Linked DNA regions of Homo sapiens. The protein of the gene in region 3 interacts with the protein of the main gene of each other region in a pairwise test. Each region holds a gene or a part of one and is shown on either strand. Other genes may lie near its edges.

Region 1 (10,437 bases), on a different chromosome or scaffold from region 3:
GTGCGGTGGCTCATGCCTGTAACTGCAGCTTTTTGGGAGGCCGAGGTGGGTGGATCACCTGAGGTCAGGAGTTCAAGACCAGTCTGGCCAACATGGCGAAACCCAGTCTCTACTAAAAATACAAAAGTTAGCTGGGCGTGGTAGTGGGCACCTGTAGTCCCAGCTACTCGGGAGGCTGAGGCATGAGAATTGCTTGAACCCGGGAGGCAGAGGTTGCAGTGAGCCAAGATCCCACCACTACACTCCAGCCTGAGTGACAGAGCAAGACTCTGTCTCAGAAAAAAAAAAAAAAAAAAAGGCTTTTGGACCGAGGCAGGAGGATCACTTGAGGATAGGAGTTCAAGGCCAGCCTGAGAAACATAGTGAGACTCCTGGTCTCTACAATAAAATTAAAAATTAGCAGGGTGTGGTGACACCCACCTGTAGTCCCAGCTACTTGGGAGGCTGAGGTGGGAGGATCATTTGAGCCCAGGAGATTGAGGCTGCAGTGACCTGTGATTGCCCCACTGCACTCCAGCCTGGGCAACAGATCAAGATGCTCTTTAAAATAAATAAGAAATAAATATAGGATTTGGGGACAATGAATGAGATTCATTACTCAACATTCACATTAGTGTATCGCTTTGCTTTTTTTTTTTCTTTTTGAGACAGGGTCTCACTCTGTTGCCCAGGCTGGAGTGCAGTGGAGCAATCTTGGCTCACTGCAACCTCCACCTCCCCAGTTCAAGTGATTCTCCTGCCTCAGCCTCCTGAGTAGGTGGAATTACAGGTGCCGCCACCACGCTGGGCTAATTTTTGTATTTTTAGTGGAGATGGCGTTTTACCATATTGGCCAGGCTGGTCTCGAACTCCTGACCTCAAGTGATCTGCCTGCCTCGGCCTCCCAAAGTGTTGAGATTACAGGCATGAGTCACCGCGCCTGGCTGCTTTGCTGTCTCTTAATACTAGGGATGTAAGAGCCCCTCGCCATCGCAGGAAGTTTATTTCTTCTACCCCAAATGGGCTAGAACTTTTCTAAGTTAGAAGTGCCCAATAGGGTCTAAGGTGATCTCAGGGAGGACAAAAAACCCTTCCCCGGAGCAGGAAGGCAGAAGCTCGATTGATGTTGATTTTCAGTAGGAAGACAGACCATGAAAGCACGGTCACACCATGCCCCCTAAAAAAAAAAAAAGAAAAATATAACAGAAACGCCCACCAGAAGGAACTGATTTTTATTGTACTGTATTTGATTTTGTTTTGTACGCCAGTTCTATTTATTTATTTATGTATTTATTTAGAGACAAGTCTCTCTTTGTGTCCCAGGCTAGAGTGCAGTGGCATGATCTCGGCTCACTGCAACCTCCACCTCCTGGGTTCAAGCCATTCTCTTGCCTCAGCCTTCCGGGTAGCTGGGATTACAGGCACGTGCCACCACACTCGGCTAATTTTTGTATTTTCAATAGAGACGGGGTTTCGCCATGTTGGCCAGACTGGTCTTGAACTCCTGACTTCAAGTGATCCACCCGCCTTGGCCTCCCAAAGTGTTGGGATTACAGGCGTGAGCCACCACACCCGGTTGTGATCTTTCTTCCGTCACTGTCCTCCTGCTCTGCTGCCCTGCCCTGGCCCCTTGCCCCTCACCCAGACCCACCACAGCCTCCCTGGCCCCCCGCCTCATTTTGCCGCCTTCAATCCATCCTTGCCCCAACCCTCTGGCCACAGGGTGATCTCAGCTCCCATTTTAATTGGCACTGGCTCTCAGCACCTTCCAAACTCCCTGGCCTGGCATTCAAGGCTCTCTCTACCTTGCAGGTCTCATATCCCACCTCGCTGCTCCTGCGCCTGCAGTCCCCCATGTCTGCGACACCCAGTGTCACAGGTCAGCCAGGGCACTTGTGGTCCCAAAGCTTGGCTCAGCTACCCCATGGGCCTGGCCTGGCGCAGAGCAGGCATCTGAAATGCTTGTTGAGGAACAAATGAAACCCCCTTGAAAATGTTGCTGCCGTCTGTGCAATGGCTGTGATTTCGCCAGAGCCACTGAGTCTGGGCTATCTGGAACCACCCTCTTGAGTGACAGGCTTGAGGATCTCACGCTGGTGACCATACTGAAGAGAGAGCCCCCTTTTCACTGACCTCCTGGGCCTTCCTGCTGCATCCCTTGGGAGAGCCCGGGGGGGGGCAGTCACCGTATCAACTTCTGCTGTCCCCCCCCGAATTCACTTTAACCTGGGAACACCCCAGGAACAGCGCCTGCCCCCTTAGGATTGGCACAGACCCTCTCCCACAGTCTTATACTCTATGTGTGTGCATATGTGCATGAGCCCCCCATTGAGCAAAGGTGACAGTCAATCAGTGCTTTTGCCTGCTTCTGTGCTGATTCTGTTTTGAGCATTCGGCATGGAGAGTGGCCTCTGCTGTGGCTGACGACATCAGGAGGAAAGGACAGGAGGGCCTGAAGGCTTGCACACTCTGTGTCCAAGTCTTTTTTTTTTTTTTTGAAATGGAGTCTCCCTCTGTTACCCAGGCTGGAGTGCAGTGGCGCGATCTTGGCTCACTGCAACCTCCACCTCCCGGGTTCAAGCGATCCTCCCACCTCAGCCTCCCAAGTAGCTGGGACTATAGGCACGCACCACCACGCCTGGCTAGTTTTTTTTTTTTTTTTGTATTTTTGGTAGAGGAGGGGTTTCACCATGTTGGCCAGGCTGGTCTCGAACTCCTGACCTTAGATGATTTGCCCGCCTTGGCCCCCCAAAGTGCTGGGATTACAAGCGTGAACCACTGCCCCCACCTGGTGGGTCTAAGTCTTAAGTCTGCCCCTGTTCGTCTGCCCAGCCCAAGCCTCAGTCCAGAGCCCGCTCTGTTCTTGTTGGAGTGGAATGGGGACTTGCACTTGGCCTAGCATAGACCCCAAACCACCAGGGCACGGGGGCAGAAGGACTCCAGCCACAACCGAATGAAGGTGCTAGAAGCAGAGGTAGCAGGGTGCTCTCCTGATCGCTGAATTTGTATTCTTCCCTCATCATGGTGGTAGCAGGGGGCCCTACTCTGTCACTTCCTGATGATGTTGTGCATGGGGACTGGGTGGCTGAAAGCCCTGGGAGCCACCCAAGGGTGTTCATGCCCCTTTTATGGGGAAGAGGCTGTGTCTTAGTTACAGTCCTGAGAGCTTTAGATGTCTAGGGATCTGAAATCTGCATCATTGGCCAGGTGCAGTGGCTCATGCCTATAATCACAGCCCTTTGGGAGGCTGAGGTGGGTGGATCGCCTCCCACCCAGGATTACTCGGGAGTTCGAGACCTGCCTAGCCAACATGGTGAAACCCTGTCTCTACCAAAAAAAATTAGCTAGGCGTGGTGGTGCACGCCTGTAGTCTCAGATACTTGGGAGGCTGAGGTGGGAGGATAGTTGGAGCCCGGGAAGTTGAGACTGCAAGTGAGCCAAGATTGTGCCACTGCACCTGTCTCAAAAAAGAAAAAGAAAGAAAAGGAAAGAAAGAGAGAAAGAGAAGAGAAAGAGAAGAGAGGAAGGAAGGAAGGAAGGAAGGAAGGAAGGAAGGAAGGAAGGGGAAAGAAAGAAAAATAGATGGATGCATCATTGACCCAAGCCCTGCAAGGCCAGTCTTGGGCAAGGGGACTGTGGGTCTGTGACCCCAGGTCTGGGGTGTTGTGGGGAAGGCAGAGGTTTGGCTTAGTAGGAACAGGATCTTTCTTGAACACTGCCTGGGGACTGGGGTCCTGGGACTGCCAGCAAGCAGTGTCTCCAGAGCCTGGGGTCATGGGAGTCACAGCTGGAATTCCACTTGTGGGTAGGTGTGGGGTGGGAATGAGACGGGGTGGGGGCTGGGTGTGAATGAGGTGGAGCGCGGTGGGTGGGAGGGCTCTTTAAGCTTCTTCCAAGTTTAAGTCTACCACCGAGCTGGGAAATCCAGCCTCTTCCATTGCCCAATCCCCTAAGGGCTAATATGGAGACATCCTGCCCTGCCGCCCTGTCCACACCGCCAGGCTTCTTCCTGCCCTGCCGCCCTGTCCACACCGCCAGGCTTCTTCCTGCCCTGCCGCCCTGTCCACACCGCCAGGCTTCTTCCTGCCCTGCCGCCCTGTCCACACCGCCAGGCTTCATAGATCTGTCTAAAAACGCCTTTACCCTCCCAGTCCGGGCCTCGACTCCTCCTCCTGGCATCCAAGCTCTCCGTATGACTTGGGCGTGCTCCCCATCCCTCACTGTGTCCTGAATGCCCCCTCCTCTCTTTTCAGCACCCCTCATTGTTACCACCTCCCATCTCTCTCCCTCACAGCTCCAGTAAAGCCCCCTCCCGATCCTAAGCCCTAACCCTTGCTGTTGGGCCCTCTTTCAGGTGCTGCCCGACGCCCCATGGGGAGTCCCTCAGCTGTCCCACCAGAGACAGAGCTGCAAGGGGGCCTGGCAGGTGTCAGGCCACACTGGGCTGGACGGGGGTCCCTGATGGACGGGTGTCTCTGAGAGTGGCTGCCCCGCAGTCCCCGCCTTCCCCGTGGGAGAAAGGACGACAGGAGAGCCGGGTGCAGTCCCTAAAACAGGCTTTTAATAACATCGTGTCTTCACTGAAGAGCTTGGCGTGTCCCACCCGGGCGGCGCCGCGGGCTAGTAGAAGGAGTACTGGTTCTCCACGGCGCGCGCGCGGCCGGGCGCGGCCTCCGGGGGCTCCTCGGCGGCGGTGGCGGCCACGGCCTCCAGCAGGCGCTCGGCGCTGTTGCTGCGGCTCCGCGCGCTGAGCTGGCCCTCGACGGGGCGCGGGGGGGCGGGCCCCGACGCGGCAGAGGACGACGAGGCGGAAGACGAGGAGGCGCCGGCGGCGTCGGAGGGCGAGGCAGGCGGGCAGGCGGCCGCGGCGAGGCTGGAGAAGTAGTGCTGGCCGGGCGAGTCGCTCCAGCAGGCCGGGGACGCGGGCGCGGCAGGGGGCGTGGGGCCCGGCTCTGCAACAAGGCGACGGCAGGGCGTGAGTGGGGACCTGGGCTGGCCACATCCTGCAGGGAGGCCGGGATCCCTCAAGGGGCCAGGGCCCACGCTCAGGTTTCCGAGTTGCAGCCCATGTCCTCGGACACATATGCAAGCACACCCGCCCACATGCATAAACAGAAGCACACACACATACATGTACCTAACCACGCGTGTGCACGCCCATATAGCCACATGCACAGGAGTGCACACACACGCATACATAATGCACACGCTCGCACACAGGCACACAAGCACACGCGTGCCCATGCACGCATGCACACGCTCATGCATATGCGCACACACGCACACGTAAGCGTACGCACACGGGCACATGCACACATACACTCATGCACACACACAAGCACACGCATGCACATGCACCCATGCCCTTAGTGCTCGGTCCCAGCAGCTTTGCTCTGAGCCTCCCCAGTGCAGGGCTTAAGAATCCATATGCCCAGCTCCTTTCATCCCACTTGCCCCAATCCACACCCCTGTCCCCACCCCCATACACCCACCTGCACTGCTGTTGGGCGCCCCCTTCCCCTTGCCAGGAATCATTAGGGACCTGGCTGCCTCTAGGCTGCCACTTCTGCCTCCATTCCTTATGACGTGACTGCTTGAAATTGCTGTGGCTAGGCTAGGGTGGGAGGGACACGGCTGAGGCTATGGGACAGGAGACCTGGGGCTCATCCCACCCCAGGGACCACCTTCTTGAGTAATCAACGGGAAGTCTTCTTGAGTAATCACACCAGCCAGGTGGCGGCATCTTACCTGGTGGGGGGTCCTGGGCCCGCACATAGCTGCGAAGGGTGATGTCGGCCGAGCCCCCTGACTCCAGTGGGATGGGGTGTGTGTGGAAGTGGCGGAGCATGTCAAGCACAGACTGGAACCACAGATGCTGTACGTGACACTGGCCGTGGCCGTTCAGGGACAGGCGCAGGTGCTGTGGGTACAGGTGGGTGTGGTCAGGGGCAGGTCCGGGGCTGGGCACCTGGGTAAGCGCCTTTGGGGGTTGATGGAAGGACCAAGGCTCACAGGGGCTGTATGGGGCTGTGTCAGGGCCGGGGGCCCCTCACACATGAGCCCCATCTGGAGATGGGGAATGGGGGCAACGGACCCAGGCTGAGATGGAAGGCATCAGGCATTGTCCCCATGCTGGGAGCACCTCCACTATGGGCCCATGCCCTACACACCTATAATCTCTAATCCCCTCCCTAATGCCAGAAGATAGGGATTACTGCCCCCATGTTAGAGATAGGAAAACCAAGGCCCAGGGAGGGGGAGTGACTGGCCCATGGTCACAGAGCACAGAGCAGGGAAGAAAACTCCTGTTTGGGTGGTTCCCCCAGCCCAGGAGGCTAGAGGTTGGCCCTCTGTCCCTGCAGAGCCAAAACCCGGAGGCATGGAAAGCTCCCCAGGGCTGGCTGGGGAGGAGTGACCGCACGCTGTGGGAACAGCTGGAACAGGGCTGGCTTCTCTCTAGGTCTCTAGGGCCTGTGTGAGGCAGGTGCCTCAGGGTAAGAAACCATAGGCCTGTGGTGTCTAGTGGAGAGCTGCAGGTCTCTGACTTAAGCCCTATTTTGCTCAACATGTATCCCACTGCAGAAACAAGTGGCTATCTCTGGGGTGTGTGGGGCAAGAGGGGAGCTAAGAGGAGTGGTTTGAGGGTACACGCATAGCCCCAAGCCCAGGAGGGGGAGCTGGTCTGGCCACCTGCATAAAAGACAGACAATCTGCTAGGTGTGGTGGCTCACGCCTGTAATCCCAGCACTTTGGGAGACTGAGGGGAATGGATCACGGGAGGTCAGGAGTTCAAGACCAGCCTGGCCAACATGGTGAGATACCCCCCAACCCTTTAAAAAACAAACAAAAAAATACAGACAATCCCTGGAGCGGGGTGGCGGTCCCACAAGTGAGCTCTGCCACTTAGCAGAATAAGTTGCTAGGACAATGCAGGGACTCAGCCCGAAAGAAACAGCACAGAGGGGTCCCACCACAGCCTCATAGCTGGGCAGAGCCTGCGCAGGGCACAGCTGGGTCCCTGGGGAGAGAAGAAGCAAGTTGGACGCATCCCAATCTTCTGCCAGACCTTCCAGACATTTATTCTGTGAAGGTGGAAAGAGTTGCCTCTGGGAAGGTAGTGATCTTCCCTCCCAGGAGGTATGTAAGCTGGAGGCTGGGGTTCCTGCTTTGTCCCACCATTTACTTATCAGGCCTGGGGCAGTCATCTCCACTCTGGGAGAAGAGCAGCTGGGTAGAGAGGTGAGAGGCAGGTTCAAGGCTGGGTCTTGTTCCAGGAAGGAGAGGAGCTTGCCACCCACCCTTTGTTCCCCCATCCTAGCCTCTGGCTTGGGCATGAGTCAGATCCAGGCCCTCTGGGAGGCTGCCTGGAGCAGCACTGGCTGAGAAGTAAATTGCACGTCACCAGGGATGGCCTTAAGCACCTGGTTGTCGGAGGAACTGTAAGGGTGGCTGCTTGCCAAGGAAATGTCCCTGGTGGAGGTGCTACCTCCTGCATGGTGGGGCCAACCTGGAGGAGGAGAGAAGCCACCAGAGGTTCTGCACTGAGCCACTAGGGGTTAGGGCAGCCGGGGTCCCTGCAGAGAGACACTGTCCCCCAGCTGCAGGCCTGGAGCAGGAGTCCTAAGGTTCTCCCTCCTCTAGTAGGGGCCGCCAGGAAATCCGTCCTGGCAGGAGCCCAGGCTGAGTGTTTCCTTATCGGAAACCTGGGATGCGGGGGTGGGCACTGAGGTTCCTGCCCCCTCTGGCCACATTGCACCCCCCCATAATCATTTGCCTTTGCTGTCAAATTTTCCTTTGAATTTCAGGTCAATAGGCCGGGCGTGGGGGCTCACGCCTGTAATCCCAGCACTTTGGGAGGCTGAGGTGGGTGGATCACCTGAGGTCAGGAGTTTGAGACCAGCCTGGCCAACATGGTGAAACCCTGTCTCTACTAAAAATACAAAAATTAGCCAGGTGTGGTGGTACGTGTCTGTAATCCCAGCTACTTGGGAGGCTGAGGCACAAGAATCGCTTGAACCCGGGAGGCGGAGGTTGCAATGAGCTGAGATTGCGATGTTGCAATCCAGCCTGGAGGATAGAGCGAGACTGTCTCAAAAAAAAACAAAAACAAAAACAAAGCATTTCAGGTCAATATAGCAAGGAATCCTCTTCCTTGAAAGCACACCGCCTGGGTGTACCATCATGCCTCTGATCCAGCTGGGTGCTGTTGGGATCGCCTTCCTGACTGTCTTCCCCTCCACAATTCTCCCTCCCCTGCAGGTCTCTGATCAGGCTGTCCCCTCCAATGCTGAACCCCACCCCCTAGACCCTGCACAGCTCTCCCACCCAGCCCAGCTCCTCCTCCCCTGCTGGGTCTCTAGGGTTTGCCCGTGTGTGTTCCTCAGGGGTTGGTGACCTAACCTGGGCAGGGAAGAGGGGCTGTCTGAGGTCGGTGGGGCAGAAGGTGGGGCTCTGAGGGCCTTGGTTGGCTCCCACCCCCCACTGGGCGATCTCTGGGTGGAGACCCTCCGAAGCTCCAGTGCTATGAGATCCCCCGCGCGCAGGAGCTGAAAGGATTTGCAAATTTGGGTTATTAGAAGGGCCCAGCCTCCTGAGGGCTCAGCCGCCAGTAGGTGGCCTCCCCTTCTGGAGAATGCAGAGGCTGAAATAGGGCTGACTGCAGTCCCTCAGTGATGTGTAGGAGGGACGCAGGTGGCTCACGGAGCATGGCTGGGGTGAGTGGGGCCCGTGGGAAGTCATGCCACACCTGTTCGCCTGCAGCTGCTTCCAGGGCACAGCCTCAGGACCGGGGTCACCATGACCCCTCTCCCTCAGGGCTGGCCACTGCACCCCCATGGCGCCCCCCACACACTTGCCTTGGCCTTGCCCTGGAAGTTGAAGGTCAGCACGTACTCCCCAGGCCGAGTCTCACTTTGGCGGATCACGAAGAGGCCGTGGTTCCGGGGCCCCCCTGCCAGAACCAGTTGAGCAGCCTTGACCCGGGACAGTGTCCCGTGGAACCATGGGTAGTCGGATAGCTCCAGCTCGGGTTCAGCCTCGGGATCCGTCTCTGCACCCTGTTCCCCTGAGGTGGGGATGACAGTGTGAGGAACATGGGGGGAAGGAGAAAGGGGGACAAATAAATAAATGTGAGAAGAGAGGTGACGTCTTGTTGGTTTTTTTACATGCAAAATGCTGTTGGAATAATGTTTAAAAAGTTGGTTGGTTTTTAGTTTTTATTTTTTTTTTGAGACGAAGTTTCGCTCTTGTCGCCCAGGCTGGAGTGCAATGCTGCAATCCCGGTGGCTGACTGTAACCTCTGCCTTCCGGGTTCAAGCGATTCTCCTGCCTCAGCCTCCCGAGTAGCTGGGATTACAGGCGCCCACCACCACACCCAACTAATTTTTGTATTTTTAGTAGAGATGGGGTTTCACTGTGTTGGTCAGGCTGGTCTCAAACTCCTGACCTCAGATGATCCACCCACCTCGGCCTCCCAAAGTGCTGCGATTATAGGTGTAAGCCATTGCGCCCAGCCTTATTTTTTATTTTTTAGAGATGGAGTCTTGCTGTGTTCCCCAGGCTGGTCTCAAACTCCTAGGCTCAAGTGATCCTCCTGCCTTGGCCTCCCAAAGTGCTGGGATTACAGGTGTGAGCCACTGCACCTGGCCTGAATATTTTTTTGTTTGAGACAGAGTCTTGCTCTGTTGCCCAGGCTGGAATGCAGTGGCGTGATCTCGACTCACTGCAACCTCCGTCTTGCAGGTTCTAGTGATTCTCCTGCCTCAGCCTCCCAAGTATCTGGGATTACAGTCATGCACCACTATACCAGGCTAATTTTTGTATTTTTAGTAGAGACAGGGTTTCACCATGTTGCTCAGGCCGGTCTTAACTCCTGAGCTCAGGCAATCCGCCCGTCTTGGCCTCCCAAAGTGCTGGGATTACAGGTGTGAGCCACTGCGCCCAGCCAAATAATTTTATTTATTTATTTATTTTTTGAGATAGGGTCTTGCTCTGTCACCCAGGCTGAAGTCTAGTGGCACAATCATAGCTCACTGCAGCCTTGGCCTCCTGGGCTCAAGCAATCCTCCCACCTCAGCCTCCTGGGTAGCTAGGACTATAAGCCTGTGCCACAATGCCTGGCTAATTTTTGTTTATTTTTTGTAGAGACAGAGTCTTGTTGCCCAGACTAGTCTGGAAGTCCTGGGCTCAAACGATCCTCCTGCCTTGGCTGCTTGAAGTGCTGAGATTACAGGTATGAGCCACTGTGCCCAGCTGGAATAATTTTAGAGTTGGGCAGGGAGCTGACCCAACCCACTGGTGAAGTCTATGAGGTAAACTGAGGCACAGAGCTGTGAAGGACTATCCTGGAGTTACTCTGTAAGTCATCAGCAAACTTAGGAACAAATCCAGTCGCCTGTTCCCAATCCCTGATTCCAACCCTATGGACCCTTTTCTGTGAGCTCCTTCCTTCCCTCCCTC
Region 2 (12,695 bases), on a different chromosome or scaffold from region 3:
GTTGGACAGTCTTTGCCTCTAACCGTCACCAACACTCATGGGGTAAGTAGATGCTGTTATAAGGATGCCCATGCAACAGGTGGGAAACCTGAGCATCAGACAGGAAAAGCAGGTTACCCATGGCCACACAGCTGGACTCGGACTGGAAGAGAGGATGAGGGGCCCTGCAGGCCAAGGACAGGATGCTTCCTAGGGAAGGGGGCCCTGCTTGTTCAAGACATTCTCCTCCACCCCTTCCCTCCATCCCCATCACTCAGGACTGAAACTTTTGCAATAACAGCATTTCAGGGGCTTCAGCAGTGAATGGGGGACCACAGCTCCCCACTCCCTCCCACTCACACACAGAGTGTGGGGACTCCTCAGCCTCTGCAAGGGCCACTCTCTCACTCAAAGAACAGAGTAAAGGGCCTGGCTTTCCTCGTAGTCTGCAGGGGACTGGCCCCTCTATGCTGAACCCAGGGCCCCGTGAGGCCCCGTGCATTCAGTCACACACACTAGACTCTAGTTTCATGTCACCACTTTACTTTTCACATGTATAGCAGCTCTCTGCATCTAGGCTGCGTGCTCTGTGAGGGCAAGGATCCTCATTGACAGATACCATTTTTCCTTCCAGGGAGCCTTGGGCAGCGCTGGGCAGGTAATGTGAGCTGTGATACCTACTGACTGATCAGTCTGGGAGGGTGGGGCATGGCTCTGTTCACGCTGGCCACAGGGAGTGTATGACTTTGCTGAACTTTTTTTCTGCCTGAGGCTCAGTTTCCTGCTATTCTTGGTCTGTGTCTGTCTCCCTGAGGGCTCCAGGGCTGGCACCCGGTACGTGCCCTCCTCCCACTCTCACCTCTGCTGTGCCTGTCCCTTAAGCTGGAAGCACAAGCAGGAGAACAGCAGGGGCAGCCTCACCCAGAAGGCAAGGGGCAGCTACCTGACATTCCTCTCCTCTTGGCTGCTGGGGAGCCTAGGGGAGATGTCACGGTCTGAGGATGGAGGAAAATGAACTCACATTGTCTTTCTGTCCCGAAGGAGAAAGAGGGTCTGCCTAGAACCATGGAGACCCTGGGCCAGGGCTGCTTTCAGCCTGGGGAGCTGCTGGGTATGTGTGGGCAAAGCTGCCAGCACAGGAGGGGACTGTGGCCTTTGGGGCTGCCCTCCGGTGATCAGAACCCTTCTAGGGGAAGCATGGTGATGAGGGTTGGTTCACTCTGCATTTCAGAGGGAGGACCTCAGGCCCAAGAGGGGACAGGGATCCAAAAACCCTCCAGCTGCTTGGAAGGTTCAAAAAGGGGTGTGGACGCATCCACATCAGCAGGAAGTAGTAGGAAAAGTCACCAGGGAACACGTAAGGATGAGGCCGGGAGAATTTTAGCATGCAAATGGGTAGGATGGCCCGTTTACTGATCAGCTGCTGCCTCCTCCTTCTCCTCCATGTCACAGGAGCTCTGAGGCCGTGCCTTCGCCTCAAGCTCCCTCTCTCCAGCTGGCTCCACGTGAGGCTCCTCTGCCAGGAGGTACTGGGCCAGCTGCTCCAGGTGCTCCAGGCTTATCTTCTGCAGGCGCTCCTCGTGCTCCTGCCTTAGCAGCTGCAGCACGGCCTTGGCATCCTGTGGTTCAAAGTGTTTAGCTAGGACCAGTCCCAGCTGGTGCCACAGGGGCTGGGTCTGCGGCTGGTGGGCCTCCTTTAGCGCCATCTTCTCCAAGGGCTGCATGATGACATTGATAGAGGCATTGGGCCCAATGCAGTAGTCAGAGAGGTGCTTGTCATCCTCCAGGAGCTGGCCACGGAAAAGCAGGTGCTGCTGCTCCTCAGGCACCTTCAGCCGCCTGGACACCAGTCTCTTCAGCGTGGCTACACTCTCTTGCCCTGACACCTTCAGACTGCATCTCTGGCCCAGGAGCAGCTTGACTGTGAGGAACATCGGGCTGAGTGGAATCAGGAGGGATCCATGCTCTGGGAGCTGCCCTGAAGATTAGGGGGTCCTGCGGGAGATGTTGGCTTCTCCCTATCAACAAAGGGCTAGTAGTCCCAGGAGACCAGGGACCCAGCTTAGGCAGGCAGCCATTGGCTAGTGCACGGTGATGTCACAATGCTGCGGGGGGGCTCATTTCCAGAGTGGAACTTTTGGGACAGCAAAGGGGTATTTGGGCCCAGAGCATCCTTCCTCCACGAGAGGAGAAAAAGAGCACTAGGAAAGAAAATGTGGGACTGGGGGAAATGAGAGTGAGACTAGGGAAAGGGAGGGAGGGAAAGGACAGGGTGGTGGGAGGAGCATGTCTATTGATTTCTTCAACACATGTGTATTAGGTGCCACCTCTGTGCCAGCACCTGGACCTGGGGAGACAGTCATATTCAGATGGATGACTTCTGCCTTCATGACACTTTCACACTAGTGAGCTGGCTAGCATTTATCAAGCGTCCTCTTTCTGTCAAGCACTTTACACGCTCTTTTGGATTGGGCTTTCCAGCAGCAGACACTGAGACAGGGATTTGAGAACAAGTACTCAATTAGGAGGTGATCCCAGGAGGCACCAGGAGGGGAGTGAGGATGTGAGATGAGGACGGGAGGGAAATCAAAACGTGCATTCATGAGCAGGTTGCCATTGTGGGCAACTAGTATGTTATCCTGCTGGGGAGTTCTGGGAGGTTGCATGGAACACACCTGAGTTGCACCAGGTGTGGTTTTTTTGTTTTTTTTTTTGTTTTTTGAGACAGGGTCTCACTCTGTTGCCCAGGCTGGAGTGCAGTGGCATGATCTCGGCTCACTGCAACCTCCGTTTCCTGGGTTCAAGTAATTCTCCTGTGTCAGCCTCCCAAGTAACTGGGGCTACAGCTGCACGCCACCATGCCTGGCTAATTTTTGTATTTTTAGTAGAGATGGGTTTCTCCATGCTGCCCAGGCTGATCTCAAACTCCCAGACACAAGCAATCTGCCTGCTTTGGCCTCCCAAAGTGCTGAGGTTACAGGCGTGAGCCACCGCACCTGGCCGAACCTGCATCTTTATGCTCTGACTCCTGTCTTTGGCTAATAGAAGTGCTACCTCCTTGGCACTTCTGGTCCACAGGTGTTAAGCAGCATGCTCCTGTGACCACAGAAAAGTAGGAAGCCATCGGGCCCTCAGGAATGTGAGTGCTGAGGGGATGGGGCAGGACAGCCCACAGCATCTGCATCACAGGCCTGCCTAATTGAATCCTCTCAACCTATGAGGCAGGCACTGCCATGATCTCCATCTGCCAGAGGAGAAAGTGGAGGCTTGGCTGATCCTACAGCAAGCAGGCAGAATTGCTCTTGTCTTCACTGTTACCTCATGTTGCCTCCTAAACAAATCTCTGCTCAGTGCCTTTTGTGGCCCAGGCCCTGAGCAGGCACCCCCGGCTCAAAGGTGAATATGAAAAAGGACACTGATTGGGCCTCCTCTGTGTCTGCAACTTCTGCAGCATTTGGCAGTTTTCAGTGCAACACATTGCTGAAGGCCTTCTGGGTCAAGCCCTTTATATATGTTGTCACAATTTAGCCTGGGAGGAAAGTATTGTCTCATTTTAGAACTGAGCAACTTTGGAGAAGACCTGAATAACGTCTCGCAGCCAGTGGGCTGATTTTGTCAGGGATCCCCTCAACTCTCACCAGCTCTGTGCTCGACTGTGCCCTTCTTCTCACTCACCTTCTCCCTCCCTCCCACCTAACCTCCTTTCCTTTTCCACCTGCCTGGAAGCTACAGTGGCATGATGCTGTTGTCAACATCCTTGGACTTTCCTGAACTGCCCTTCCACAGCACCCAGCCCTGAACTCCGCCCAAAGGTGGCTGCAAGCTCTGTCCCTGTCTTTGGAAGCTGGCAGCCAAGAGCAGCTGGTGAAGATACCCATGGGGCCGGGCGCGGTGGCTCATGCCTGTAATCCTAGCACTTTGGGAGGCTGAGGCGGGCAGATCGTGAGGTCAGGAGTTCAAGATCAGCCTGACCAACATGGTAAAACCCCGTCTCTACTAAAAATACAAAAATTAGCCGGGCGTGGTGGCGCGCACCTAATATCCCAGCTACTCGGGAGGCTGAGGAAGGAGAATCGCTTGAAACCGGGAGGCAGATGTTGCAGTGAGCCGAGATCACTCCACTGCACTCCAGCCTGGGTGACAGAACGAGACTCTGTCTCAGAAAAAAAAAAAAAGAAGAAGAAGAAAAGAAATATCCATAGATGCCACAGACTCAGCAAGCCCTCACCCCTCACCCCAGCCCCATGTTCACTCTTGCCGGGTGACTCATATTCTAGTCCATAGGGAAACTAGAGCTCACAAGTCAGGAATTCCCTGACCTTCCGTCCCTTCCTCACTTCCTTCCTCCTCTCCTTTCCCCCACTAAATGAGCCCCCTTGTTATTTCCCTTCTTCCCTGAAAATGTCTCCGAAACCCACTCCTCCTCCTCTGCATCCCCACTGCCCACCGGTTCAGGCTGTCAACTCCCTCCAGCCCATAGTTCATCTCCTCCACCAGTCCCACCGCCTTGGGTCCATTCATACCACAGCCAAGGGGATCTTCCCAAAATAAAAGCAAGGTTGTGTACTCCTCTGAGTAACACCATCCAGTTTAGTTTCCTCTGCTTTTGGAATCAAAACTGACCTCCTTGGCCGGGCTCTGCTTGTCACCCAGCCTCGTGCCTCCCCACTTGGCATCCTCCACCGTAGCCACACCAGTCTGCGTTTCCTCTACTTGCTTGTCCTATTTGAACTCTTCCAACTCATCCTTCAAAACTCAGGTTAATGCATGCCTATAGTCCCAGCTACTTTGGAAACCAAGGCAGAAAGATAGCTTGAGCTGAGGAGTCCAAGACCAGCCTGGACAACATAAGAAGATCTTGCCTCTAAAAAAAAAAAAAAAAAAAAAAAAAGAAAGAAAGAAAAAAGAAAAGAAAAAAAAAAGAAAGAAAAAGAAAGAAAAAAATTCAGGTTGAAAATCACCTCCTCCATGAAGGCTTCTTTGCTCTCCCCAGCCCTGGGAAGAGATAATCCCACCTCCCTCCATGCAACCATTGCTCCCCTTGAACTTACTTACGTGAATGCATCTAGCACACCTCATTAGCTCTCAGAGACTGGGACTAGGTCTTCTCTGCCTTTGTGTCCCACGCTTCCAACACAAGCCTGGTACACAGAATGCCTTGAATACCCGCCTGTCAAATGAAGAAGATAAAATTGAGACACATTGAGCCATCCAGGGGCATGCAGGGCAGGTCCAGTGCAGCAGGCTGTGGAAAGACATAAACCCGCCTGCAGCCTCTCTCTCACCCCCACCTCCTGCCCTAGAGAGATGAAAATACAAAATTACATAAAAAATCAATCAGAAAGTGAGGCCAGTCTTTACCAAAGGATCTTCTATAGCATTTCTTTAAATAGCCAGCTCCCCTGGTGCATTTGAAATAAGATAGAATTTGTAAATGTACCTGTACATACAGTGTGGGGGAGACCTGTGGACTCTCTTACTGCAGGGCCTCTCTGCAGAGGGAGCAGGGGGATGGATGAGGTTTCTCCTTGGCCATGTGGGCACTCCCAGCCTCTAGAGGGGAGGACTCAGTGGTGGACAAACCATCAGATGGACAGGATTGGGGCCACACCATGGGAGATGTCCTGAGCAAAGCAGAAAGATGAAAATCAACTGCCTGCCTCCAGCATCTCTTCCTCAGACCCATCCACCCAGCCAGACACTGCCCAGGACACTGGAAGCCACTGAAGAAGACATATTGGGCCTGGGCTTCTAGAAGCACATGAGCACCACAGCTCAGGCTTTGTTTCTCCCAGACCAGCGGCTGCGTGCAGGCAGGGGCCCTTGTGACTGGGGCTTAGAGAGTCATATCTGCTGGGCCACACTTTCTAAACCAGGCTACCTGTTCTAGAGAGTCCTAGTTGGGCCATGAAGATAGAAGCTTCAGAATTAGTGGTGCCCAGAGAAGCCGAGAGAGATGGTCACTACCCAGCTGCTGTGTCTGTGCCCAGGAGACCCCATTGCCTTTCCTAAGGGGGACAGTGGGGGCACTTTGCTGGACCCTCAAATCACATTTGGAGCCTGGAAATTTTATGTTTTCCCATGTAATTGCTTGTGATAATTATGCAATTAGCATTAGAAAATGTAATTGTGTAATCGGAGCATGCAATCAGACAATGATTGCCATAATTAGGGGGGAAGATTATTGGGAATGAGTGGGTCTGGTGACTTGGGGAAAGGAATCAATGTGTGCAGACAGTGCTGGATAGTATTAGGCTATCTTGAAAACAACTGCAAATGCAATTTGTGTCACTGGGAAACAAGCACAATGTCCGGCAGGGAAGATGGATGGGCGTGGGAGGGTGCTTCGGAACAGGTCTGTGAACATCTGGGTTCCTCAGAAGCCCTTTGCAATCTCCTGAGCAGACGGACTGGACATTGAATGCTGAGGGTGTGAACTCCTCAGGATAAAAGCCAAGTGTCCAGCTGCCGGCCTGGGGCCTGCCTTGAGCAATCCTGTTCCTTGAGCCCCATTTTCCTCCTCTGTCTAACGGGAGTGTGGTCACTGCCCAGCCTCCCTTGCAGGGTTGCTGTGAGGGCCAAAATAGGTAGGCCATACCCCCAGGACCTCACACAGCATCCAACCCATGAAGACACCCAGACGTATAGATTTAATTGATAAATGTAAACGGCAGCTCTTACTGTCACCCCTCGACAGTGAATGAAGATCCCACTGTGCCTAGAACTGTGCCCAAAGTGTGAATCCCCACAGGCCGGGGTGGGCCCCACTGCTTGCACAGGTCGGCAAGCAGAGGCCTTTGCTGACTGCTGAGAGGGGCCCCAGGAGGTGGGAAGTTCACAACCACTCCCAGGGGCCACAGGAAAGGCTCATATAGAAGATAAACTATAGCCTCTGCCCACCTCACTCCCTGGAAAATGATGAAGTTATTGCACTTTAATGATGTCAGGCTGGCCTTCCAAGGAAGGTGCCTGGGATGGAGCAGAACCTGGGGAGACAGAGAAGGAGAGCAAAAGCAAGACAGAGAAACGGAGAAGGAATGGAGAATAAGAAAGCCGAGTGTAGGAAGTGCTTGGAAAGGGGTGAACAGTGGAAGGGACACAACGGAAAGGGGATGGGATAAAAAGTGCAGGCAGGGGAGCAGCACCAGGGAAGAAGGTAGAAAAGGAAAGAACTGGGGTGGGCGCGGGGTGGGAGAAGCAGGAGCATGAAGGGACAGTTCATGCAAACCAAGTGCAGTCAGTAGCGCTACAGGCCTCCCTTCTAAGAACACAGTCCTCCCCGCTCTCCTTACAGTCTGCAAATGGTTCACGGGGAAACTTTGGTAGAGAAAGTGGAATCTGGGAAGCTGAGAGCACAAAGCTGTGGTCCCCAGCATAACCTGCTGCCTCCAGCCCATATAGCCGCATCACTCAACAGTGTGTCTCGAGCGCCCATGATGTGCCTGCACCTGCAATGGTGAGGTGAAGACTGGCAGGTCACCAGACACAGCCCTGTGGCAAGGGCTGCCCCAGGCCCACCACTATGCTGCTGGAGACCCCACTCAGCCTGTGCCACCTCCTGTTGCTGTCATCAGGGACCTCTTACCCCTTTGAGGAAGAGGGCTGCTTTGTGCCCTGTCAGGCCTAGCATAGGACAGGACCGGCAGCTCTTTAGGTGGCCCCTGACCCAGGCTGCCCTCCATAGTGCCTGGCACATAGTAGGTGCTCAGTAGGTATGGCCCACTCCCTGCCTGTCATCCACTGGCTGGCATTGGCTGTCTCAGCAGCTGCACCAAAATGGGTTTGGGGCTTCTCCCATGAGGGCCCTAAAGCCTCCTCCCTTCCCGGGTCTCAGGGAGCCGAGGCCCAGGTGAACCTGAGCCTGGGGCCTGCAGGGCCAAGGAGCTGGAGCAGGAGGAAGGCAGCAGATCTCATGGGGCCACAGGAGCCCAGGGGACATCACTTACAGTCCCAGCCCTCTCTGGCTGACAGTGGGTAGTCCAATATCTGAAAGGCCTCAGTCCTCACACCAGACAACCTAAGTCCTGCCCTGTGCTGGTGTCCCAGAGCCCTGGAGAAGTCAGACACTGGCTGGGAGCAGATCAGAAACCTGGCTCCAGAGACCACATGGAACTCACAACTGCTGGAAAACCTCACCGGGCTGTAGCCTGCTGTGACCACTAGATGTCACTGGTGACCTCACCAGCCAGTCCAGCAGCTGACACCAACCAAGCCAGCCTGGGGCCTGGGCACAAGGTCTCACGTGGAGACCAGCCCCCTCCTCCTGCAGATCACCAGCCATACTCCTGCCCTCCTCTTCGGGGTCGTGGTCTGAGCACAGACATCGCCTGGCCCTGAAGCAGGAACAGGATAGTAAACTTTACTATGGAGGCAAAGAAGTTCTAACTCCAGCAGGAGGTGGGCCCTGATCACAGGCTTCACCTGGGAGGGAGCTTGGGTGGGTGTGAAGGAGGAACAGGAGTTGCCCTGATGAAGAAGGATGCCCTGACTGAGGGCCCAGCACACGCAAGTCCATGTGGAAGTGTGGGACTCGGTGAGCTGGAGTGCAGCAAAGGAGTGAGAGGCGAGGCAGTCAGGAAACAGGCAGGGCCGTCACCTTCACAGAAGAGCTCTTTCCTGGAGCCAAGACTTCTGCATCCCTGCAGGGCACAAGCACAGGAGTCCCCAAGGAGCAGCCCACAGCTATCACTCACTCTGTCTTACACACACATGCACACGCACACGCAAACGCACGTACACACATGCCCTGCTAACCTAAGCTGGGATCAGCAGGGGGCTTTCTTTCCCACACTGTCTCTGAGCTCCACTGGGGCTCTCGGAACACCAGGACCCCAGCCAGTGTTATGGTGCCAAGAGTGAGTTTCTCCCTCCCTCATGGCCTTCTCTGGTGTGCCCTGGAGGAGACACTGCCCATGGTGTGGCTGGTGGCCCATCATCTCTGTTAAGGGTGCTTTAATCATGATCAACACAGGGGCATCTCCTGTGCCCGTCTGCACTCTGGGCTGTGTGATTTCAGCTGGCAAAAAGTAGTCTGCTTCAACCTGTAGCTGTGGGACTGCCATGCATTTAAACATACCAAACAGGCTGGGCGTGGTGGCTCACACCTCTAATCCCAGCACTTTGGGAGGCCAAGAGGCAGATGGCTTGAACCCAGGAGTTTAAGACCAGCCTGGGCAACAAGGCGAAACCCCATCTGTATAAAAATACCAAAATTAGCAGAGCATGGTAGTGTGTGTCTATAGTCCCAGCTACTGAGGAGGCTGAGGCAGGAGGATCGCTACAATTTTATCATCCTGCCTCAGGATGATAAAAGTGCTGGGATTATAGGCATGAGCCACTGGCCTCCATGTGGTTCTTGAGTACTTTTTTCCCTTTTGTTTCCTCTTAAAGTGCTTCCTGAAAAATCTACAATTTTATCTTGGTTGCAAGAATAAGGAAAAAAAAAAGATTTCTTCCCATCTAGGCCAGATTAGATGGAGAAGCAGAGGGCCTCCTGGGCCAGGCAGAATGGTAGCTATATTCTGGACATTCTACAAAGGTCCAGCTGAGGGCCTAGACTTGGCAGGCACCCCCCCTGGGAATGGCTTTGATAAATGTTCCCCTTCCTACAGGGGTGACTGCTTCCTTGAAGATCTGTGTCATCAACCAGAGCGACAGGAACCCTCCACCACGTGGCAAAGATCAAACACGATGCATTAAAAGCCAGGACCAAGAAGGGGCCCACAAAGCCCTGCCCTGAACACCTCCTGCTCTTGCTGGTCTTGCAAGTCTACAGCCAGGTGTGGGTGGAGAAGCCAGTGGCCAATCTAAAGATGCTGCCACATGGATCGTGCAGGACCAGAGAGAGTCCTTGTTGCTCCTGGCGAGATACAAAGGCTGGTCTTTCACCAGGGCAGCTTGTGCTAGCCTTTCAGCCTGACTCTTGGCCTAAGGGTGCTAAGGCGAGTCCTTGGGTGAGATTCCTGCTAACAAGACCCCTTCTGTCAGTTGAGGAAAGCAGGCTCCTGCCAGAGAAGATGACATGGAACAAGCTGCATGACATCTGCCCCAGAGGAAGCCAAGACCAAAATGAAGGAACAAGGGAAAAAGAGTGAGAAAGCTGGGAACAGAGTAAAGCTGGGCTTGGGGGAACTGAGCTACCTGTAAGACAGATCTCTGTTAGGGGAAGAGAGACTAAACTACAGCTGAACAGAACAAGGGGCTAGTAAACTTGGATTTGACTTAGGCTTGATTAACCCCAAGGAAGTCCAGTTGGCAGGTGGGATGTTGGGTTAGGGTTACAGTTAGGGTTGGCCTATTATTTTGTTTGACTTCCTGCTCCTCTAGCTGGTAGCACTAGCCACATGCAGCCACTCATCAGAACAAGCTGGAGCCAAAAGCAAGAGGGAGAATATTTAAATCCAGCCAACAGCTGATTGGATGGTCCCATGAGCAGCATGGACTGTATGGAAAAACGGGTCCGATCAGGGGCTGCCTCAAGCTCCATAGCAGACCATCAGAACTACTTCAGTGGAGTCATTCCTGGTATCAAAACCCAAGTGACTACCTGTTGGACCAGCAGCCTCATATCCTAGCTGATGGCCATCCCAGGGGTCACCAATATGAGCTTCTGCCCTGAAGTGCCTCTTCCACTGCAAGAATATCACACTGGACTGACTACCTTTTGTACATTAAGTTTATTACCTAATAAATGCTCCTAGGACCCACAGACAAGTCACCCCATTACTTTCATTAACAGGGACCTGATTAAGAGTTAAGTGTCTTGGAAGGGACAGGACTCATGGTAAGGTGGGAAGTATAGAGCATCTGGCACCAGAATTGGGGGTGGTAGGGGCTGGCAAGAATGTTACGTGGGGTCTTTGCCCTGGAGAGAACTAGAGAAAGACAAGAGAGCCAGCTGTCAGCCCTGCCTCTCCTTTGGCCTCTCCAAAATACTGCCTCCCTTTGTCTCCCACCCAGCAGAAGCGTGGACCCCAGATTCAATAACTGCTGGCCTGAAGCTATCTCTGGCATTTGCAATTGGCCTGAACACAAGGTACTCAAAGGAGGCCTGAGAGGCAGTGGGCATGGGTCAGGTGATGGGTGGGTCTGGCTGAATTGAGGCTGAGGGCCAGTCCCACAGCCCAAGCTCTTGGCACCAGGTTCCTGGCAGGATGGCAGCTGCCCATCAACGCCAGACTCTGTTGGGAGTGGTGCATCTGCAGTGATGTCCCAGAGGCCAGGAAACAAGGTGGGAGAGTCATGTGGGGTGGCCCTGGCCTCCCTCCCTGCCTGCTGGTAGCCCAGTTGGGAAGGAAGAAGAGCCCTCCAACCAGGATGGGGCTGCAGGGAAACAGAAATTAGCACTCTGCCTCTGGGTCCTGACTAAGCTTATGTGCCAGGCATTGAGTCTTCAGAACTGGGACCCTCCAGCCCCTTGGCTGGGCAAAGGCAGTTGTCACGGCCAGACCGGATTCTTTACCAGACAGGAACCAACGGCCCTAGAATGGGATCTGGTAGGAATCACATAGGTTAACAGATAGGGTCTTCTGTCCAAGCTGCTTCAGGGTCTCAGAGTGGTCAAGGCAGGAATCTCCAGAGCTATCCAAAACCACCGTGCACCCCCTCAAGCTCCCACTTACACCTGACCCCTCCCCTACTTCTCTGCAAGGGGTGGCATCTGAGTCTGGAATGACTAAGAATTACATTTAGGGAGAAATTTCTGATATAAGGCTGGGGATGTTGCTTCCTGCAAACCAGAATAGGTGACTGGATGGTCCTGCCGTAGCCTAGACTGGGGAGTCACAGGCTGTGAGTCGTGGATTGTCAGAGACAACGGCGAGCTGAAAAAGCAACCCCCTACCACACCCATCAAGAAACTGGGGCCCAGAGAGGTGACTTGCTAACTTCATGCCTATTGGGGAGGGGTTTACACACCAGCAGAGCCCTGGGGAGAATGCTTTCCGGGAGAGGAGCTGGCCCAGAGCCCAAGGAAGTGAAGCAGGATGGCCGTGAGGAGCCAGGCATGGGGAGTGGTCCCCAAGGCCCCAGCTAAGTTTCTGGGCCCCAGATGAAGAGTGAATCGCTGGTTCTCCTTGGAGGGGAGTAGTCAGTCACCCTGTAAAAGTTTATTTTTATACATGTCTGATGTATTTCACATCCGCTCAGATATTTTGACACACACACAGGAAATGTAACTCTCCCCCATATGGCAGTGTTTGGTTGGCCGGACCTGGGGAAACTCAATAGGGTCACAGAGGAGCAGAGGGGAACTGCAGCATCAAGGAAGAATGCCAAAGGCCTGAGGCCATGATGGGCACTCCTGGCCGGCAGGCTGGAGACGGAGGTCACGGTGAGGCCAGTCCTCCTGCCTGGATACAGAGCCCTGTATCCAGTCTGGGACCCCAGACTTAGGAGGCCAAGTGTGGCTCTGGTTGCTGCTCCCCAGGAGGGAGGGGAGATCCCTATGAGGATGAAGAAGGTCCGGAAGAGCAGCCAGAGTGGGCCACCAAGGGCATGGGCTGCAGGACAGACAGAGACACGCAGGCCTGAGCGACAAAGACTGGGGCGCCTCTGACATCAGCTGGGAGCAGGGATTTTCTCCATGTTCCAGCATCCCAGGAGGAGGAGATCAGGGAACCTACAGCTCAGATGAAATAAAAGCACAGGGAAACAGCTCTGGGCTGGACCCCACCTGGCTGGAACTTTCCGCAGTTACCCAACTTCCTTGAGCCTCA
Region 3 (9,140 bases):
CATCTGCATCACCTGGGGGACTCTGTATAATTACTATTTCCTGGGCCGAAGGTTCTAATTCAGTAGGACTTGGAGTGATTCCAGCAATCAGCCATGCTGCTTGGGAACTGGTGTACTTTCATTCCATTCTTCACACTTATTAATAAATATATAAACCACCTGCAGTTCTTGTTAAAATAACAGATTCTGGTTTTTCAGGCCTGGGGTGGGGCCTGAGACTGTACATTTCAAATATGCAACCAGGTGATGTCAATGCTGCTGGTTCCTCCTGGCCAGCACTTTGAGTCCTAAAGGACTAGACAATCCCCCAGTACAGATAACTCAACAGCATCATGGCCTCAATGCAAGCCCACTTGATGATGGGCTCCCCTTGGCCAAACCACTGGGGCTTCTTTGGTTGTAGCAGCAGGACAGTGGGCAGTGTGGTAGCTGTGCCCAGATCTAGGTGGGGCAACAAAGTGGAGGGCCCTGGGTGAAGGTGGATAGCAAGCTGATGACTCCCACTCTGGGTCAGTGTCAGCTCAAAGAGCTGGAAGAAATTCAATGCTGGTCCAGTCCAGCTGGATCCCATGGGCCCTAGAAACCTCCCATTCTGGCACAGCCAAAATGTACAGTGTCTTTCCCAAAGGCTCCCCTATTCGGCTCCCTCCGCCTGGGTTCTGATAGATTGTGATGAAGTGAGTAAGGGTAGGAAGCTAGCGTCTGGTCCATCAGAGAGCCTGGGTCTTGGTGCTGAACCTCTGCTGTGTGCCAAGCCCCTCCCAGTGTGCCACATGCCTCACCCCCAAAGCTTCCCCTCCCTATTTTCCTCAAATGACTTTTCACTGAACTTCAGTCTATATCCCTCTTTTCTTCCTCTCATTTCTCCCTGGACATGGCATCTGGCTCTCAGACCTCCGCAATTCACCTGTCCTGGCTCAAACACTGCCATCAGCTAAACTTGGGCTTTCCCCATGTTCTTTTGCACAGCACCCTGTCCTATCCTTCATCATTCTCCTGCACAGTATCTATGTGGGATGTTCTGTCCAAGACCAATATTAACTTCTGTGGAGCAAGATCCAGAGATTCTTTTGATTCCTTTGATATTTAGTCATTGCCTCCTTGGAACCCTTGACATTGAATGACTCCCTTCACACCTCTTTCTCCCACTGTAGATTTCACCTCCTTCTGGGGCCACCCCTAAGGCTAACAAGGTCCTAAGCACTTCTATTTCACATCATATTAAGCTGCAATTCATTGACTTCTACAGCTGCAATGATTATCTTGGGCTAATGGCTCCCAAATGTAGACTGCACATCCCACTTTACCTCCTGCAGCCTACAGGACAGCCCACTTTGGACATCCTGCTGATATCCAACCAAATATATTTAAGGTTAAGTTAATTATCTTCTCCTCCCAGCCCACACATTCCTCCCAATTTCATTTCTCTCACTGTCATAATATTCCTCTCACCAGTGATATTCAAAACCTGAGACTCATTGACAATATCTCCTACTTCTCCTGACTCAGTGTCTAACTTATCAAGTCCCTACAGGTTATTTCTTTAAAATATAACTTTGTGTTTTTAATTGCCATTACTACTGTACTTGTATTCCCGGTTTTTCTGCCTTTCATTCATTCCAACCTATGTGAGGAATGTGGACCCACGTTCTAAAGATTTTTTTCACCACATCCCTGCCCAGCTCTAGAATCTACAGTGACTGACTGTTTTGTCACCGTCTGGCACTGATTTTCTTGTGTGATAGCATCTCACTTCTCCATGGACACTAAACCACACCTCCTGGCGACATAATTCCTTTCTTATCTTCTCAGTGGACGTACTCACAGGTGTCCCATTGTTCTCCCTGCCTCAAAAGTCATCCCTTCTCATTGTCATCCATTCAGATCTTTTGATATTAAGATCACTGGAGATAGTATCAGTATAGATGGGTTCAGTATCTAGTTCTATCAAATTAATTACCAGTGTAGAGTTACAGCTTAGACATACAGGGTTATGTCTTTTAACCTCCAACCCTCAGTTTCAGCACTATACATTCATGGGATTAGATTATGTGGTTATGAAGGTTCTTTCTAGGCCAAACTATTTATAATTCCATGACTCAGAGTTTAATGAATCTTTCCCTTACTATTGTAACTCTACTCTGAACTCCTATTAAATTTTACTGTATTATTTATTGTTGTACATAAAGATATTTGTTTCCCTTATAAAAGTTTATAAGATCTTGAAGTCATGAAGCATGGCTTACAGCTCACTTGAAGCTCTCTCCAACCACCCTAATTGAACTACCCTGGTCCTTGTGGCCAGGACATAGAAACACACAGAGCAGACTTTGAATAGAAAGGCTGAGTCCTAGACCTAGCTCTGCTACCAATTTATTTTGCCACCTTTTATCCCTGGGCCTTCAACTTATCAACATTGGATGGAAAGATTGAGTAAGGTATCTTTCAAAACTGTTTTAAGTTTCACAATAAAATTTTATGCAGAATTCTAATGATTGTAAAAAGGATAAAGGGCAGCTGCTTTGCTGACACAGGAAGCAATGGAGACTTTGGAACCCTGCTAGTATTTCTCTTGCCTACAAAGAAGACACTGAGGAGCTACCAAGGAGCACAAAAAAAAAAAAAACGAAAACAAAAAATCTCTTAAGCTTCCACCAAACACGGTTTGAATACCATTGGCCCAGATGGTTTCTTTTGAGATTACTTTCTAAAGTCAGTTGTTCTAAGTAGTTCAGAAATCTTGATTTGGCTTAACCTATTCCTTCTCCTCAAATCTCTTTATGTGCTCCTAAATGTTTTTGATGTCCCATCATGTCATATGAGGGGACTACCTTGTTACCTAGACAGCTTGCCAGGAGGAGTGAAGGGATAGAGGGCATACCAGAGATATTGACAGGAGAGAGTAGAAAAGAAAGAAAAGAGAGAGAGAATATTGCCTGTCCATCACTGACCTGCAGATCCTGAGTTCCTGGAACCCTGATCCCTGGAGACTCCAACTGATTTCTCCAGGGCATTGCGCTGTGTTTATACCGTCTGGTACAGGTGGGTCAGGCCTGCACCAATCTCTATAATTGGCTGCAGGACATGAAGGAAGAAGAGCCTGGGCATTTCACAATGTCTTTGGTACAGCATGAATAATAAGATGGTGGGAACATTAAGGAGCATTTGTTGAAGGGGGAGAGAGTCATCCATAAAGCCTTGGCAGAAATAAGGTATGGGGCCCCTGCTCTGTACTGACTGTCGTTGACTATGTTATTAGTGGGTTTGCAGCCAGATAAACAGTGCTGGGGTCAGACATCTTTGGTGCCCCGTGGGGCTCCATCCTAGGCTTGAAGAGGTGGTGAATACAAGAGAAAGTATGTCTGGCAAGCCCAAGGACAGAACAAATTCTGATGCCGGAATCCAGGCTGTGGCCAGACAGCCAGAATAAGAGAAGGGGCTGATAGCACTGTGAGTGTGACTCTGTTTGGAAAGACGAGAAGGGAGTCTCTGCTTTTCAGTGGGTTTAATTAGTTGGTACCAGCTTGATGGGACAGAACATCTAGGGAAACCCAACTGCAAAGATATTGACCTCAGATTCACCCTGAGACTGAGCAGACATCATGTGCCATGGACTGCTAGGAAATATGATAGTGTGAGTAGAGCACAGAGGAAAGAACACTCAGGTCTCTAATTGACATTACTTGACTCAGTCCATCCATCCATCCATCCACCCGGCCACCCATCTGTCCATCTATCTACCCATCTGTCCATTCTTCCATCCATCCATCATCCATCCAACCATCCATCCACCCATGTGCCCATCCATCCACCCTTCTGTCCACCCTTTCATCCATCCATTCATCCATCCATCCATCCATCCATCCATCCATCCCTCCATTACAAGCGTGGAGAAGCTTAGGTGTAATGTTCTCTGGAAACTAACAACCTTATTATAATTCTCCCTCTTTGGTCATTTGCAAAGTTCCACCAAGGGCTTCTTGAGGAAGTGGGATAGGTGGGTCTAAGACTCAGATGCCTGCAGGATGAGAAATGAGAAAAGATGGGCAGAAATGGGACCAGATTTCTGCTTTCTAAGGCCAGTGATCATTCTTCTTCCACTCTCCCAATCTCTCACCCTTCTATGGGAAGGCTTAAAGCATGAGTTACTATGTCAGGCAACCAATGAGTGTTTACCCAGCATTTACACTGCTGTGTGACACAGACATTCAATACACAGTCCTTGTTGTTAAGTAGTTTCACAGTCTAGCTGAGGAACTAAGTCATAAACACTTGAAAAGATAATTAAGAAGACCAGACTCTCTAAGCTGTGGGCCAAGGACATGTTGGAAACAATAGTGGCAGATAAGCTCCTTGGGCAAAAAAAAAATCTTAGAATTGAAAGGACTTTAGGCCAGGCATGGTGGCTCATGCCTGTATCCCAACACTTTGGGAGGCTAAGGCAGGCAGATCCCTTGAGGTCAGGAGTTCAAACCAGCCTGGCCAACATGGTGAAACCTCGTGTCTACTAAAAATAGAAAAATTAGCCAGGCATGGTGGCATGCACCTGTAGGCCCAGCTACTTAGGAGGCTGAGGCAGGGGAATCACTGGAACCTGGGAGGCAGAGGTTGCAGTGGGCCAAGATGGCACCACTGTACTCCAGCCTGGGCGACAGAGTGAAACTCCATCTCATAGACATGGAATCATAGTTTCCCTCCAATTGGAGAAATCTGTGCTATGGCATCCCTGAGAAATTGGTTAATTAGGCTCTGCCTTAACATCTCCAGGGTCAGGGACCACACAACCTCTTGAAGAAACCCTATCAATGTTTGTGGTCCTTGTGGTTAAAATATGGGGGTCATATAGGAAAAACAGCCTCCACATAATTTGCACCCATTGGTTCTGCTTGTGTGTTCTGGAATTACACAGAACAAGCACATTCTTCTACTTGGCAAGCCTTTAAGTGCTTGAAGAGGGCTCCCTGTGCATTGCTTTTTTCAGGATAATACCTCCCACATCGTAGCCTCTTCCCTACAGCCTGCCCTTGGAACATTCTCTGTTCCTCGATGTCTGCAATTTGTACAAACCCCACATGATGTGAGTATTGCATCTCTGTAAATACAGGTCCAGGCCAGTGATTTATACCAAAATTGCAGAAATCTAAAGCCACTAACTCTTTTTCACTTGTAGAGTCATGATGTCCAGCCTGTACATTCCTGAAGGAGGCATTTTATATTCCTTCTTTTACTACTGACTTGTGTCGGCTCATCATGGCTAAAGCTCTTCTGAGTTCTGTCATCCTACAAATGAGGAAGCAACAAATTCAGGCTGGAGAAACCTTCAAGAATGAGGTGGAATTTAAGCTGCTCCCTTAGAGGTGGGCCTGTTTAGATGGGTGGAGGAGAAGGAGAGAATATTCCAGGGTGGAGAAATAGTTTCTACATTATATACTCATTGGGTTTCCATTATGTGCCAAGCATTATGCAAGGTGCTAAGAGACAAACTTATATGTCCCTAACCTTAAGGTCATCCCAGGGGCCACAGACTCCAAGTTAAGGTACTACAGTGCAGGGAGGTGCATACAAACATTGCCAGATCAGATAGCTGGGGGTGTCTCAACTCAGTAAAAGCTTCTTGGAGGAGGTGACATCTTAGCAGGGTATTGAAAGATGAGAGATTTATCTAGGCAGAGAGGATGGATGGAGGACCCAAAAGCAGAGGGAGCAGCACAAGACTGTGTCTGGGCCCATGGACAAAGAGAGTGTGAACAGGGTCTGAAACACAGCCTAGCATCCGGAGCTCATGTTCTTGGCAGCCCTGAGAGGCCTGGGGTAGGAGCTGTGCTGCCTGTTGCCTGAGGACTTCAGCTGAATCTGGGCTGGAGCTGTGAGGTCCATAGAGGCAGCCTTGTCTGTCCTGGCCACCTCCTTGCCAGTGCCTCAGTGGACTCTCAACCACCAAGCTGGTCCAACAGGTGAAGTGCAGGTGGAATACCTGGGGCTCAGATATGGGCTCCTCCTCTGGCTTCTGCTCCCATTCCCCAGGGTTTGGGTGGGGACACTGGAGTTCATTCCTGGCACATAGGACAAGAGGATCTCAATCTTGCAGAACCAGATGACTCAACAAATGCTGTATTATTAGCTTTTAAATAGAATATTTGGGTAAATGAAGGATAGTTGTTCATTGTGAGAAAGAAAATAAAAAATATTGGAGAAAATTGCAATAATAAAACAAATGCATTTGTTTCTCTTTCTCTGCATATTATTTATCTATTGCTGCATAACAAGTTAGACCAAAACTGAGCAACTTAAAACAACAAACATCGATTATCTCACAGAGTCTCTGCTTCTAGGTTCACTAATGTGGCTGTGGGCAGGAGACTTCATTTTTTACCACGTAAGTCTCTTTATAGGCCTGCTCATAGCATGGCAGCTAGCTTCCCCCAGAGCGAGTGAGCCAAGATAGATTGGGGGCGGTGGGTGGCAGAGAGAGAGGGCTCAAGTAGAAGCTGCAGTGTCTTTTATAACCTAATCTTGGAAGTGGCATGCCATCACTTCTGCCATATTCTATTGGTCACAAAGACAACTTTGGTACATTGTGGGAGGGGACACACACAGAATGTAAACACGAGGAGACAGGGATCATTTTAGCAGCTGTATTAGTTTCCTAGAGCTGCTGTAACCAATTATCCTTGGTGGCTTAAAACAGCCGAAATTTATTCTTTCTTCGTTCAGGAGGCTGGAAGTCTGAGATTAAGGTTTCAGCAGAGCCGTTATCCCTCTAAAGCCTCTAGGGAAGAATTCTTCTTTGCCTCTTCCAAGCTTCTGATGGTTGCCACAATCCTTGGTGTTTCTTAGCTTGTGGCTGCAAAACTCCGATCTCTGCCTTCATCTTTACATAGTCTTCCCCGCATCTCCTCTGTCTCTGTGTCCTCTCCTTTTCATACAAGGAAACCAGTCATATTGAATTTAGGTCTACCTTCATCCAGCATGACCTTGTCTTAACTAACTACATCTGCAGAGACCTTATCTCCAAATAAACTCACAGACTGAGATTCCAAGAAGGATGTGAATTTGAGGGGGACACAATTCAACCAGTACAGCAGCCTTCTTAGAGACTGGATCCAATGCCTTGGAATCCCAGGGGCTGTGATCCTTCTAGGAAAGAATTACCAGATGATTTTTGTTCTTTAAGTTCCTTACCCAGAGATTCCAGCCACACAAACTCAGCACAGCCTCCTCCTCAGTGGCTTTGCTGAGATCTGTTTCCTGATCACTACTACAACCAACCAGAGCAGCAGAGCTCGATTCAATTTGAATTTACTCTGGGGAAGTGGAGGCTGAGGACAATCAGAGATGATGTCTACTCTGCTTACCTCAAGATTAATTTCTTTTCTTATTTTTATACAAGGAATTCATCTTCATTGTAGAAAAATTAGGAAATACAGGTAAATTAACAGAATTAAAAGAAAAATCACCTATACTGCCACCACCCTGACATTGCTACAATTGAAGTAAACTCTTCCAGACTTTTTTCTATAAAGAAATATATAAATAGGTATCTTTTAATTAAAATAAATTGCAATATATGCCACTTTGTAAGTAGGTCTTCTCAATATGTCATGAGCACTTTTTCATGGGAATAGAGACCAGCATCTGGGATTTTGATTGTATCTTGGGTTTTTAAAAGAGGATCAGCATACCCTACTTATCTTTTATCTTCTGAGCTCGAGCCATTTCTTCTGACATCAGCACCTCCTCATGCCCACAACAAGATGATGAGGGAAGAGATAGGAAAGGTAGCATATGACAGTGGCAGGATTAAAGGGAAGGAGGTGGGGCTGGGCCAAGGGCCATAGATCCCTGACTCTATGACCACCTCCCTCTCCTGCATAGTGGTGAGTGACAGGTCTTCATGTGGAGAGCTACTGACCCTATAAGGCTCAACTGGGGATGGGTTGGCCTGCGGGGCTCAGGGTAACACTGGTCAGTTACCATTAAGCAGGAATGATTCCCACCACTCCCCCACCCCACCTCCACAGAAATCTTTTCATGTTATTCCCAGTTTACCCCACATGGTTTTTACAAGATTCCACAGCAGTAGCACCATCCAGTGGGGGAGGACCGTGGACTGAGCTCCAAATCTCAGAATTTATCCAAACTGGGAACCAGAAGACAAAGTGGTCAGGTGCCCACTAAGTCAGACGTGGGGGTCCTGAGAGCAGAGAGAGTGATTGTCCGCCATGGGTCTCCTCCACTCACCCCTCACCCGAGCTGGCTCTGCCCAGGGAGTTCTGGGGGGCACGTTGCCCTAGTCACACTGCTGGAAGTAGAAGTCTGTGATGGGGGCATTCCAGCCACCATTCTCGGGAAGCTGGGTGAGTCTGACAGGCTGATCGGCTTCAGGCACCGTGCACAGGAACCAGCCCGGGTAGGCAGCCGACTCGAAGCTGGAGGTGAGCCCCATGTCCCGCCGGTAGAAGGTGAAGCTCTTGGATTCCTTGGCACCAAGATAGAGCTCCATGATGTTCACTGGCTGCCGGCAGAGGAGGGGAGGTCAGGTGAGGGCAGAAGCAGGGGCAGAGGGAGGGCTGGGCAGGATCCTTAGGGAGGAGGCAAAGCTGCCATCAACAGAATCCTGCTAGGGTGTCCCACAGCACCAGGGCTGTGGGCTGCCCGGCTTCAGTAGGCTCAGCATCTGTGGCTGAGTCCCCAGTGAGGATGCCCCAAGTCTCACCTCTAGTGTTAGAGTCGGCTCCTGCCCCACCCCACATGACAGGCACTGGCTTCCACCCTGGACACCCAGGATGACGGGGGACAGGCTGGCATCCAGCCACCGATTGGGGACCACGCTGATCTCTTCACCTGTGGGAAAGAGGCCAGATGCAGGGCCCTGGATGCCTTTCCCTCCTTCTTCCCCTGTCCTGGGCTCTAGGGCACAGGACTGCTGTAAGACGGCCTGCCCCCAGGCTGGGCAGAAGGGAGGCTTCTCAGCAGCTGTCATGACATGGCTTCTCCTGTCCACTGGCTCAGAGTGGACATCAAGGCATGGAAGCACATTGTACCACCTCCACTCCACCCTCTAGTTCAGGGTCAAATCTTCAAGCCTCTACACCCCAAAATAGATTCAACCCCCTCCTTTAATGTCCCTTGGGTCTCAG

What was found.
Region 1: the proteins of IL36RN (region 3) and SH2B2 interact in binary tests that used the Homo sapiens proteins (3 or more experiments, as listed by UniProt).
Region 2: the proteins of IL36RN (region 3) and UBL4B interact in binary tests that used the Homo sapiens proteins (3 or more experiments, as listed by UniProt).

Annotation. Positions count from the first base shown.
Region 1 is NC_000007.14:102,315,793-102,326,229, reverse strand, and holds the end of SH2B2 (SH2B adapter protein 2), read right to left. Parts: intron 9,044-10,437; coding exon 8,835-9,043; intron 5,900-8,834; coding exon 5,728-5,899; intron 4,932-5,727; coding exon 4,600-4,931; 3' UTR 4,519-4,599; downstream 1-4,518. UniProt on the Homo sapiens protein: Adapter protein for several members of the tyrosine kinase receptor family. Involved in multiple signaling pathways. May be involved in coupling from immunoreceptor to Ras signaling. Acts as a negative regulator of cytokine signaling in collaboration with CBL.
Region 2 is NC_000001.11:110,101,753-110,114,447, reverse strand, and holds UBL4B (ubiquitin-like protein 4B), read right to left. Parts: upstream 2,006-12,695; 5' UTR 1,914-2,005; coding exon 1,389-1,913; 3' UTR 501-1,388; downstream 1-500.
Region 3 is NC_000002.12:113,061,828-113,070,967, reverse strand, and holds the end of IL36RN (interleukin-36 receptor antagonist protein), read right to left. Parts: intron 8,845-9,140; coding exon 8,717-8,844; intron 8,516-8,716; coding exon 8,291-8,515; 3' UTR 6,224-8,290; downstream 1-6,223. UniProt on the Homo sapiens protein: Inhibits the activity of interleukin-36 (IL36A,IL36B and IL36G) by binding to receptor IL1RL2 and preventing its association with the coreceptor IL1RAP for signaling.